Homo sapiens: one gene and its partner. The protein of the gene in region 2 purifies or fractionates together with the protein of the main gene of each other region. This does not show direct contact. Each region holds a gene or a part of one and is shown on either strand. Other genes may lie near its edges.

Region 1 (7,366 bases), on a different chromosome or scaffold from region 2:
CCCGCCACATGAGGGGTCAAAAGGTGAGGGTCTCAGGTTTGTGTGGTGCTGGGGAGGGGGCAGGCGGCCTCGGTGTCCCAGCCTTAGCCAGCTGTGCTGGCAGTGAGTTCCCGACCCCACCTAGCTACCTGCCACTTCCCTCCCCGAGCCAGTGAATCACCGGCTCAGCCACTAGCACCTGAGCCAGCCTGGCTGGGCCCTGGGAGGGGTAGTTGGGCTGGCTGGGGCAGGGAGGCAGCAGCATGTCCCCCATCCCCACCTCCTCGCACTCCAGCCCTGTGTTCCCCTATACCTCCTCCACCCCAGGGAGCCTTGCCAGCATGCTGGCTTCAGTAGCCATCTAGAGGAGCCTCACACTGTCGGAGCCGGGGAGGTGGGGCAGGCGCAAGAGACTACTGGGCACCCTAACATTCTCCAGAGTTGAGGGTTCAAAGCCCAGATTGGGCTCTGACTTGCTCTGAGTCACATGGTCAGGGGTGGAGGGGAAACCTTGCTTCCACCCCAGGGCTTTTTCTGTGCATTCGCCCTGCAGCCTCCATAGAGCACCTGCTGTGTGCATGCACTCACTGTGCGGAGGTCACAAGGTCAAGCAGACCTAAAAGAGGGCAGATTGGTCCAAGCCTTATGAGCACAGTGCCTTATGGGGGATCATTATGCTGGGGCAGGAGAAGCCTTGAACTGGGTCAAAGGATGGGCCCCCCCAGGCAAAGGGACAGTGCTGGTGAAGGCACAGCAGTCTGGAAGAACTCTGTGGCCAAGACACCCTGGTTTCATCTTTCTCCATCAGAAAGATGATGGACTTGACCTTGGTCAAGTTACTCAACCTCTCTGTGCCTGAGGTTCCTCACTTGTAAAGCGGGATTTTAATAAAAATATCTATGCCTTAGGGCTATTGTGAGCATTAATTGAATTTATCCATCTGAAACGTCCAGTGCAGGCCTGGTGCAGGGTCGGCACCCAGCACGTGTTAGTTTTTATCCCATTAGAGGGCTAGTGCCTTGAAGGCAGGGGCTTGTTGGTTCTGTCTACAGTGACATCTCCAGTGCCTAGAACAGTCCTGGCATACAGTAAGTGCTCAGTAAGTTCATGTCAAACGAGTGGATCGCACGTGAGGGGAGAGCCAACAGGGCCCTGAGGACGGAGCTGCCCCAGGCCAGGAGCGCACTGCTGGGGAGCCTGCCTGGACAGTGGGAGCTGCAGGTGCTGGGCCCTGGGCGCCCCTCCTCAGGTCCCGCCTCCTGGGATGGCTGCTCCCACCGGGAGCTGCACACTCCACCCTGGGTGGGGCTCAGGTGCCCCAGGGAGGACAGGTCACTCAGCGAGAGTGTTAGCTGAGAGTCTTAACCACTGTCTTTCCCGTCCGCCCAGACACCCAGCCTCGGTGTCTGTTGGTGCCTTGATCCCTATCGGGGTAATGGGCACCCCCACTCCCACACCAGCCTTTCATCCCTGAGGTCATCTCGACACCCTGGACCCAGGCGGGCTGCTGCCTCCTCTGCAGACGAGCTGAAGCCAGTGAGTGGGAAGAACACCGCCCAATCCATCCACAGATTGCTGAGGCTGGGCTCCAGAGAGCCGGGTGGTCCAAGGGAGGCCCAGTGCCCCCTGCACCACACCCACTGGAAAAGGAAGCCCCAGCTCTATTTTGTTTTAACAGACAGGGTCTTGCTCTGTCACCCAGGCTAGAGGGCAGTGGAGTGATCACGGCTCACTGCAGCCTCGACTTCCCGGGCTCAAGTGATCCTCTCACCTCAGCCTCCCAAGTAGCTCTGACTACAGGCATGCGCCACTACATCCAGATAATTTTTGTATATTTTTTGTAGAGACGGGATTTCATCATGTTGCCCAGGCTGGTCTCGAACTCCCGGGCTCAAGTGATCTACCCGCCTCGGCCTCCCAAAGTTGTAGGATTGCAGGCGTGAGGTATTGCGCCAGGATTTTTTTTTTTTTTTTTTTTAAGACAGAGTCTCAGTCTGTCACCCAGGCGGGAGCGCAGGGGTGTGATCATGGCTCACTGCAGCCTCAAACTCCTGGGCTCAAGCAATAGGCACGAGCCACCATGCCTGGCTATTTTTTATTTTTATTTTTTTACAGAAACAAGATCTCCCTATGTTGTCCAGGCTGGTCTCGAGCTCCTGGGCTCAAGGAATCCTCCCGCATTGGCCTCCTGAAGTTCGGGGATTATAGGCGTGAGCCACGGCGCCCGGCCATGAACCCCTAACTCTTCAATACAACAAGGCCCTGGGTGAGAACTCTGGGGAGGGCTGTGGCTTAGGCAGGAGGCAGCACAGCCCCTGCATCCCTACCCCAGGGATCCCACCCCGTCCCCTCAGTCCTCATGCCCTGTACCCAGGCTCCAGGGGTCATCCCAGCCAAGTAGAGCCTTGGGGCAGAGCTGCAGTCAGGCAGCCAGGCTCTCCTGTCTCCCAGGCTCTCCTGTCTCCCAGGCTCTCCTGTCTCCCAGCCTCTGGCAGAGGAGGGCCTCCGTGCAGGCTCCTGTCCAGCACTTCTCCCGCGAAGCGGCCTCAATCCGTGGCCCTCAGGCCCCCTTAGAGGATGTAGGGAGCCCCAGGTCATCCCCTGCCTCCTGCCAGGGCTGAAGTTCGGCCTGGGCCTGCGGCTCCCAAGGCAGGGAGAGAGTCCATCCCTGGGCCCTTTGGCCTCAGGACACCAAATGCCAGCACGGGGCTGGTCCTGGGCTCTGGGCCGCCGCCGCCGCCAGGTGGCTCAAGGACCTGGGCCTGGCACCACCCCCACCCCAGTTCCCCGGCTCCCCATCCCCCAGTCCCACTTACCGGCTGTGCCTGCTGGGGGAGCCTTTGGGGGACCCCTTGGCGGGGGAGCCCTTGGGGGACCCCTTCCCCTGGGAGCCTTTGCTCAGCCCCTTGAACATGGTCGTAAAGGCAAGTGCTGGCTCAGGCTGGGCTTGGCTGGCGAAAGACGGCAGGAGGGCAGGTGGGAGGCAGCGGGCGTCCTCACTGGCTGGTCAGCTAAGTCTGGCGAGGTGGGGCGGCTGGGCACTGGGGAAGGGAGTTTCTGGGAGGCCCCTCCTTGCAGGTGAGGCAGCGGGCGGGCGGCCGGGTCCCAGGCCTGACGCGCATGCACCCACAACGGCCACACTCATGCCTCCTCCTGCACAACCAGTCTGGGAGGAAAGGGCACAGCCCTGAGGGCGGGGCCGAGCCTGCCCGACTCCCACAGAAGGTTTGGACTTGTTACACCCACATGCCTAGGGGAGCGCAGCGGCGATCACACCCAGATAGGGAAGGAGTTGGGCCAGGACAGACAGGGCTGGAGACAGACGTGCACATGCAGGTGCAGGCTCAGCGGAGAGGCCCCAGCCCCGGAGCTCAGGATTAATAAACACCTCCAGCCAGCTCAGAGGACCTGCTGCCAGGCAGGCCCCCACCCACAGCTCTCAATCCCCCAGGAGAGGAGGGGGTGTCCTGCCAGCCCAGGGCCTGACTCTCTGTTCTCCACTGACATGATGGGGCAGTCAGGGGACGTTCACTCCAGACAACTGGCACAAGGTCCATTTTTTTTTTTTTTAAGAGACAAAGTCTCGCTCTGTCACCCAGGCTGGAGTGCAATGGCATGATCTCGGCTCACTGCAACCTCTACCTCCCGGGTTCAAGCGATTCTCCTGCCTCAGCCTCCTGAGTAGCTGGGATTACAGGTGCCCGTCACCACGCCCAGAAAATTTTTGTATTTTTAGCAGAGAAGGGGCTTCACCATGTTGGCCAGGCTGGTCTCGAACTCCTGACCTCAAGTGATCCACCCGCCTCGGCCTCCCAAAATGCTGGGATCACAGGCATGAGCCACCACGCCTGGCCCCATTTTATAAAGTGTGCACAGTGCAGCAGCACCAGGGCTGGCTTCAGGCGCCAGTAAGCCTGGGCTCTGGCTGAGGCCCGGGAGCCTGATGCACTTGGCTTTTCCTACCTGCCTCTTCCCCCACCCAGAAATGGCCCCTGGTGGCTTTTATGAAGTCAGATTGAGTGGCAGACAGTGATGCCAGCTTATTGGTCTTTTCCTCACACTGGGTACCAGGGCTGCTGCCTTTTCCTTCTGTGGTGGCCCTGAGCGTCTTCAAGAAAGAGGCGATGGCACCCCCCTTTCCAGGCGCTCATTTCACTGGCCCAGCGTAACAGGCCCCTTCTGCGGGGTGGCGTCGCTTTCCAGGTCATTCCTGAAACCCCCGTGGTTTTAGTGGAAGGAGGGCTTGAGGGGGAGCCAGGGGATGGAACAGACTGACTGGGTGACATCACCTGGACATCCTGGCAGGCCTCGCTGAGGACAAAGCACAGCCTGGCAGGAGAGAAAGATCCCAGCAGACGGGGGAGACCAGGGACCGACGCCTGATACTGGCCTCAGGCCCCCATGGGATAGAAAAGTCCTGCGCCCTTTTTGGCTGAATTTCATGGGAAGTCCCTGAACTCGGCCGTGGAGAGGGGATGCAGGACACCCCCATTCCTAGAGGTGGAGGAGCTGACAGGGGCAGTAGGGGTGGGGAGGGCAGTGGCAGCCCCTGACAGCAATGAGGAAACAAAGAGGTCTCCAGTGTCCTTGGCTCCCAGCCCGTGTCTTGAGTGAGATGGCACCAGGGATGACTGGCCACTCAGCCTCTGCCCCAGCCTGCTCCCACTTTATTCCTGGTGACACTTGTCTTCTAGCCACTCATTGCACACCTGCAATCAGCTGTCTTCAGAAAGGAGCCGTTTGTGTGAATGACTACGGGGGCCAACGCCAGCCTCACCCCTGGCCTCCCTGACTCGCCTTTTTCTTTTCTTTCTTTTTTTTTTGAGACTGAGTCTCGCTCTGTCTCCCAGGCTGGAGTGCAGTGGCGCCATCTCGGCTCACTGCAACCCCTGCCTCCCAGGTTCAAGTGATTCTCCTGTCTCAGCCTCCCGAGTAGCTGGGATTACAGGCGCCCGCCACCACGCGCGACTAATTTTTTGTATTTTTAGTAGAGACAGGGTTTCACCACGTTGGCCAGGCTGGTCTCGAACTCCTGACCTCAGGTGATTCGCCCACCTCAGCCTCCCAAAGTGCTGGGATTACAGGCATCAGCCACTGAGCCCGCCTGCTTCACCTTTGAGCTTGGCCCCTCCCTGGGAGGTGGCAGTCATTGGAAGTGGGGCCCTGGGGAGAGGTGTCCAGACTCCAGACAGAGAGCAGCCGGGTGAGGCCCCTGAGCTGTGCAGGGGGAGGTGCCCTGGGCGGAGGGCAGCGAGTCTGAGGTCTGGAACACTCGAGCTTCCTCCCCTCTTCAGAAGCCCTCCAGGAAGGAAATGAGCACTGCAGGGGGCCCTCACACGCCCCGGAGATTAAGGGCTAACTGATTTACTGCAAGAAAAACAAGAGCTGACTTCCTGGCGTGATCTTCTCATGCTGGATCAAATCAGGCCCCGCTCCTCTGATAAGGGCTGCCAGGCGGCAGGCAGGAACACCCTGAGTCCTGAGGCGTCCTCTCACGTGGGATGCTCCTGTCAGATGGCAGCAACCCTGGCCCCAGAAGAAAACAGGAGAAAGGACAGGGACACAGAGTGAGGCATGGCTGTCTTTGTGCTTCACCTCTGGCCTCACCCTTTGGAGAGAAAGGAGCCCTTTATCTAAAAGGTCAAGATGGGGCTGACTGCCTGGGTCAAGACCCTCAGCGTCCGTTTCTGCAACCACAACTCCTGCTGTGTGTGGCTGTAGCGCATTTGAAGGTGCCCGGACCGAAGTGAGATGTGTTATATGTGCAAAATTCACACCAGATTTCAAAGACGTACTATGGAAAAAGAATGTAAAACGACCAGCTGCGGTGGCTCATGCCTGTAATCCCAGCACTTTGGGGGGCCAAGGTGGGCGGATCACGAGGTCAGGAGTTCAAGACCAGCCTGACCAACATGGTGAAACCTCGTCTCTACTAAAAATACAAAAATTAGCTGGGCGTAGTGGCGCGTGCCTGTAATCCCAGCTACTCGGGAGGCTGAGGCAGAAGAATCACTTGAATCTTGGAGGCGGAGATTGCAGTGAGCCGAGATCGCGCCACTGCACTCCAGCATAGGAGACAGAGCGAAACTCGATCTAAAAAAAAAAAAAAAAAAAGAAAAAAAGAATGTAAAGCATCTCATTAATTTTTCTATTGATTACATATTGAAATATTTTGGATATGTTGAATTAAATGAAATGTATTTTTAGTTTTAGTTTTTTTCTTTTTGAGACAGAGTCTTGCTCTGTCGCCCAGGCTGGAGTGCAGTGGCACAATCTCGGCCCACTGCAACCTCCACCTCCCAGGTTCAAGTGATTCTCCTACTTCAGCCTCCCGAGTAGCTGGGACTACAGGCGCGCGCCACCACACCCGGCTAATTTTTGTATTTTTAGTAGAGATGAGGTTTCACCATGTTGGTCAGGCTGATCTCGAACTCCTGACCTCATGATCCGGGGTTACAGGCATATTTTAAATTTTGACCTGTTGCTTTTTACTCTTTAAAATGTGGCTACTGATAAATTTAAAGTGACAAATGAAGCTTGCATTTGGGGCTCATCAGGATTCCTTCAGACAGCTCTGGCCTGGAAGTTAGATAGGATGCCCCAACCTTCAACCCTCCTAAGCCCTGGCTTCTGCCATGTCTCTTTGCTTGCAGTTAAAAAAAACTTTCTTTTGGCGAGGTGGGGTGGCTCATGCCTGTAATCCCAGCACTTTGGGAGGCCAAGGCGGGCAGATCACCTGAGGTCAGGAGTTTGAGACCAGCCTGACCAACATGGAGAAACCCCGTCTCTACTAAAAATACAAAATAACAAAACCAGGCATGGGCGTGGTGGCACATGCCTGTAATCCCAGCTACTTGTGAGGCTGAGGCAGGAGAATTGCTTGAACCCAGGAGGTGGAGGTTGCGGTGAGCCGAGATCGCGCCATTGCACAAGAGCGAAACTCCACCTCAAAAAAAAAAAAAAAAAAAAAAATATATATATATATATATATATATATATATATTTTTTTTTTTTTTTTTTTGGCCGGGCAGTGGCTCACGCTTGTAATCCCAGCACTTTGGGAGGCCGAGGAGGGCGGATCACTTGAAGTCAGGAGTTCGAGACCAGCCTGGCCAACATGGTGAAACCCCATTTCTACTAAAAATACAAAAATTAGCCAGGCGTTGTGGTGGGTGCCTGTAATCCCAGCTACCTGGGAGGCTGAGGCAGTAGAATTGCTTGAACCCAGTAGGTGGAGGTGAGTCAAAATTGCGCCACTACATTCCATCCTGGGTGACGTGGGTGACAGAGTGAGACTTCGTCTCAAAAAAAAACCAAAATCCCGTCTCTACTAAAACTACAAAAACAAAAAAATTAGCCAGGCATCGTGGCGGGTGCCTGTGGTCCC
Region 2 (4,897 bases):
ATTGGAACCCCTATCTGGTAACAGTCTTGTCTAGGGAAAAAAAAACACATAAATGAACAGCATGTGGAATATGAACAAGAACATAACTATTAATAGACAGATGAAGGAGAGTGAAAACCTAAGAGAATACAATATTTGTAAATGTGTAAGAATGTTATCAAAATGCTTCTGGAAAAATGCTTAGTAACTGGCAGGCACATGTGAAAGAAGTCTACTGATAATAAGGAATCCATACCATTTAATTTGGGCACATTTATCTCAAGATCAAGAACCTAGGTGTAGCCCTGGGCCAGGGGAGTCAGGGTGATGCAGAGAGGAGGTGGTACCTCTTGTGTGGAGGCCAAGGACTGCAGACAGTTCAGCCACATCAGGTGGGTTGTTCATGTGAATTAGATGGACCTTGATGTTCTCTTTAATGCTCATGTTGTATTACATTGAAACCCTAGCTTCAACACTTTAAAAAGTTCTTATTAGCAAGTAAATTACAGATTGAACTTCTGAATTGTTTGCAGCCATTTTTTATTCCAAACATGTATGTTTTTGTAAACCTGACATTTCCCAAACAGTGCAAGTGAATCAGAAGTGACTGCTTAGACTTTAATACACGTGACATTGTGAGGCAGCACAACCTCCCCCCACCCACCAAAATTCCTCAGTGGAAATGTACATGGATGCATCAGTAAAGTTCTGGAAATGCAGATAGCGTGGGTGCCTGCCAAGCAATTAATCACTCGTAAAGCTTTTAAACTCACTCTGCCAGTCACACCGTGCACATTAGAATTAAAACAACAACATCAACAAAGAAAAAACCTTAACACAGTCTGAAATCTAGATCATTGTGCTATAAAGCATTGCACGATGTTGGGAAATTTGTTCACTTATTCCCCCCATGTGCTGAAAATTCAGAAGACATCCTAGAAGTTTCATTTTGGCCCTACTGGCTCTGTATTCTCCCTTCAGCCACTCTTTGAATATTCTCCACTGTGTATATTATTATTCTATATATCAAAATATCAGCTAAAAGTGTGCATACTAAAGCATTTCTGAAATGATGCTCACTTTCTGCCTTTTGTCTACTAAAGGCTCCAAGTGACAATCCTTTCCAGCACCTCTAAATTTTGAGAAGTTTGAGCCAAGTATACAGTTCACCAGATGTACGTTTCACACGTAACCCAGACATAACTGCATGCACCTGGCCATAATGCCTTACCCAAAAATAAAAGTCATAAATAACCTTTTAAAAAGCCACCATGCTAGGGTTCAACAGGTAGCATACAGCACACGGATCGTCTGGGGATCTGCTATGCTTCCGCATGGAAAACAGGATGTTCCCAGGAGTGCTGTTGGGTTTTTGTTTTAAACCTCATTGCCTTTGGCTCAAGGGCAGTAGCTACATGATTTGGTGAAGGAGGACTTCCTAGTGGATCTTCTACAAGGTCTACCATACCTCTGAGTACCCATGATGCTGACAGTTTTCCTAAAGAACTGCCTGAGGAAACCTCAGTGCTGAGTTATTCGGAATGGATGCCTGTCAGTTGCCACTAAGCCAGTGGACCCTGCCCCTCCTGCTAGTGTCCCCTTGTTTCTAAACATCATGGCCTCTTCTTTGTGACAGCTCTATGGCCCACTTGGAGGATGTTCCAAACTCTCCTGAGTCCTATGTAAATTAAGCATAAGCAAAACTTTTTTTAAAAAAGGGGCACTGTTTTACTCCATTTTTACAAAGGTCCTTTTTCATATTTAAAAACCATTTCAGTTCTCTGAACAGTTGGTTAAAACCACATTGAAGATTCAACTAAAAGCTGAAGGAAACTGAAATAATACTGCTCAGGAGAATATCTTATAGGATTCCACAGTGAAACCATGGAAGCAGGAAGGGGAGAAAGTAGAACATACTGTAGAATTTTCAAATAATATTCTGGAAGGGTAACACAGATGTACTGATCCACCCCATCTGCTTCCCCTGAGAGCATAGAGAGGGCTTCTGAGCTGGGAAGGAGCTTGTGAACTGCCCAAGTTGAGAGAGCGCTAACGATATGCTTGACTTCTCTATCACTGCACAAAATGCTTAACTCCCCAGTCCCCGTAGCCCACCTGCTACTCAGCACGATCAGACCAGCAGAGGCATCATCCTTCCCCAGACAGGTTCCTGGGGAGGCTTTCAGTATCTGCTGGTGGTGATGCCAAGGCTGGTTTTCTTAAAACCTGCCTTTATAAAGTCTTAGTGACCTCCTGGGTATACAGCTGCTCATGTGGGTCCACCCACGCAGAATCAAGCAGAAGCAAATAGGTCCCAGCTCTGAGACTGCCCACAGGAGTCTACCCTTCTCCAGTGGGGCTTTGCTGGTGGGCAGAACATGGGCCTGCGAATCACCCTTCTACACTGTCACCAACGCACCTACACCCCGGCAGGAGGCAAGTTAGTTGCTCTAAGTGCATGTGGCCAAAGCTGTTGATGGTGCTGTTCCAGAAATATCACCTAAGAATCCTAAATGATTCATTAAAGAAAACATGGCATTATGAACAAGAGTCCATCAAAGGAAAGCTGCAAATGGCATCCCATTCAAAAAGTCCACATGCCACTGCATTTTGCCACCCTGAGGCAAAATGTCCCTGAAGTGTTCTCTGGGGAACCTCCAGCACCTTGCACAGTGCCTGACACACAGCAGGGGCCTCATAAATGGCTGTTAATAAGTGATAAAACCCACCCAAGACTGCTTTTCTTGCTGCTTTTGATAAAACTCATAAGCGAACTCTGAGTGACAGCTGCTTTCTTTGCCTCGTCCTGCTCCCTGTAGCTACCTCTGTGCCTCCATCCCACAGTTAGATGCAACATCCCTGATTTCCAGGATCAGCTTAGTTCATGCCATTGACCCTTGATTTTTTTGGTCTATTCCCATGTTCACCAGGAAGAGAAGCATGAGGTTACATCTGTAATCTCCCTGCAGCAGAGTCAACTGCATAAGAAACCAAAAGACACACCTGCTCCATGCCAGGTTAGTACCCACCCATCACCCTCATAATTTTGCCAAAACTTTAGATATGTTTGTGAGTATTAGCCAAGTATGTGTATTAAAAATCTGTCTTCCCAGAAGTTGAGTTTGATGTCTTTTTGACAATGTTCACGGACTCCCAACGTGTTAGCTTCCAGTAAAAAAGGTGCTATAAGAAAGACCCTTGGTTTTATAGATTGTTTCATCCGCACTGGATGCCATGTGTATGTAGCTGGCACTTTGGCAGGCTGTAATAAGCCATTAAGACTCCGTTAGACCCTGCTCTTAGCCCCATGTTTTCTGTCTTATTAGATGGTTATCCATCAGTAGGAATAGCAGCCATAGCTGTTAACAGTTATTGAGTGATCACTATGGGCCAGGTCAGTGCTGAGCATGCTACATCCATCATCTCATTGCCCTTTCAGAAAATCACACTGCACTCAAAACTAAGCAGCACAGTGCATCTGACAATATATCTACTGTCAAACAGAGAGCTTGGATACTGAAGGCCGTAACTCAGCACTCACACATTCAGGGGGTGGGGAGGGGCAGTGTTCTGCTCAGATCCTTTGCATCATTTCTTTTGCATCATTTCCCTGTGTCTCCCCTGGCTGAGGATGCATCTGTGGTTGTCCTTTAGAGGACTGTCCTGAGCTACTGGAGCCATTACGCCAGCAGGAATTGAGAATAAAACGTTTACATCTCCTCTGGGTGCAGCCAGCCCCTTGATTCAGGTTGGGACACCTCTGAGGCCTAACTTTTCCTCCGGAGTTCCCCTGATCAGGCTGAGGCTAAACTTCATGGAGCTCTCCCTGAAATGACAAACATTTGCCTGGCTTTGTCTCCTTCCTTGTCCTGCTTCCCCCACTCTCTTACTGGTATCCCCTGGGAATACTTCCTTAATAAGTTACTTGCACACAAATCCTTGTTTCAGGGACTGCTTCTTGGGAACCCAATCTAAGACATTTTTTTTAAAACGGTTAAATGTCCTCTCTGGGAAGGAATCTGCAATCACCACTAGCTGGGACAGCCAGGGTGGTAGGGGAAATGAAGATCTCTCAATGAAAATTACCACAAAAAGGCAATCCCTCACAGCATTCAGACCCAATTCTTTGCTTAGGGGACAAGGATTTAGTCCTTGTGGTGTGTGAACTCTGATGCAGGATGTCCAGGATGAGACGCCATTCTGAGGTTTACCAGATGACCACATGGCATTGCTCCAAGCTTTCATCCATCATCTGTGTAGAAGCAGGGTGACATGTCTGCTATATAAAGGTGATACAGAGCAGACTTCTTGCTAGGGATCAGGTTTTCCATCCAAATTCTTGTTGGGAATCTTCCAATGAAAAGTACATATGAAAAAACACTTACAGTTCTTTAGCACACATTAGCATGTGACTCCACACTTGATCGAGGCGATAAAGATGTGAAATGTCTTCGGGGTCTTGCCACACCCACAGTTTATATGCACCACTGCCAGCCTGGTGGATTCATTACATGAGGTTTCTTCAACTTATTTCATCTGTCTTTTTAAACAGCAAGTTCCAAAGTACGGTAAGATTTTCATCCTTTAAAATTTGTATTCATGGACATGTACTTCCAAGATTTTAGGCCAGATATCAGTGCTTGAGTGAATTATATAACTATTTAATAGAAATAATAAAACATCGATACAAATATAAAAGACATAATCAGTATAAAAGGCTTATATTTATAAAAATACTTTAGGTAACAGTTTTCCCCTGAGGGTTGACCATGCGTGTTGCATCCATAAATATTGCTCGGCTCTGTAGCTCACTCTCCAAAGTTCAGAGTTCATCTTTAAAGGAAGTGGTGCTGGCCCCGGTCGTGTGACCTGGCCGAAGTGGCTGCCTCAGGCTGGCACCTGGGCTTGATAGAATGAA

Evidence for each region.
Region 1: the proteins of ITGA9 (region 2) and EVPL purify together in Homo sapiens (affinity purification with mass spectrometry; 2 studies listed by BioGRID and IntAct, with this or other methods). This does not show direct contact.

What each region holds. Positions count from the first base shown.
Region 1 is NC_000017.11:76,024,306-76,031,671, forward strand, and holds the start of EVPL (envoplakin), read right to left. Parts: upstream 3,002-7,366; 5' UTR 2,894-3,001; coding exon 2,796-2,893; intron 1-2,795. UniProt on the Homo sapiens protein: Component of the cornified envelope of keratinocytes. May link the cornified envelope to desmosomes and intermediate filaments.
Region 2 is NC_000003.12:37,819,113-37,824,009, reverse strand, and holds the end of ITGA9 (integrin alpha-9 precursor), read right to left. Parts: 3' UTR 503-4,897; downstream 1-502. UniProt on the Homo sapiens protein: Integrin alpha-9/beta-1 (ITGA9:ITGB1) is a receptor for VCAM1, cytotactin and osteopontin. It recognizes the sequence A-E-I-D-G-I-E-L in cytotactin. ITGA9:ITGB1 may play a crucial role in SVEP1/polydom-mediated myoblast cell adhesion.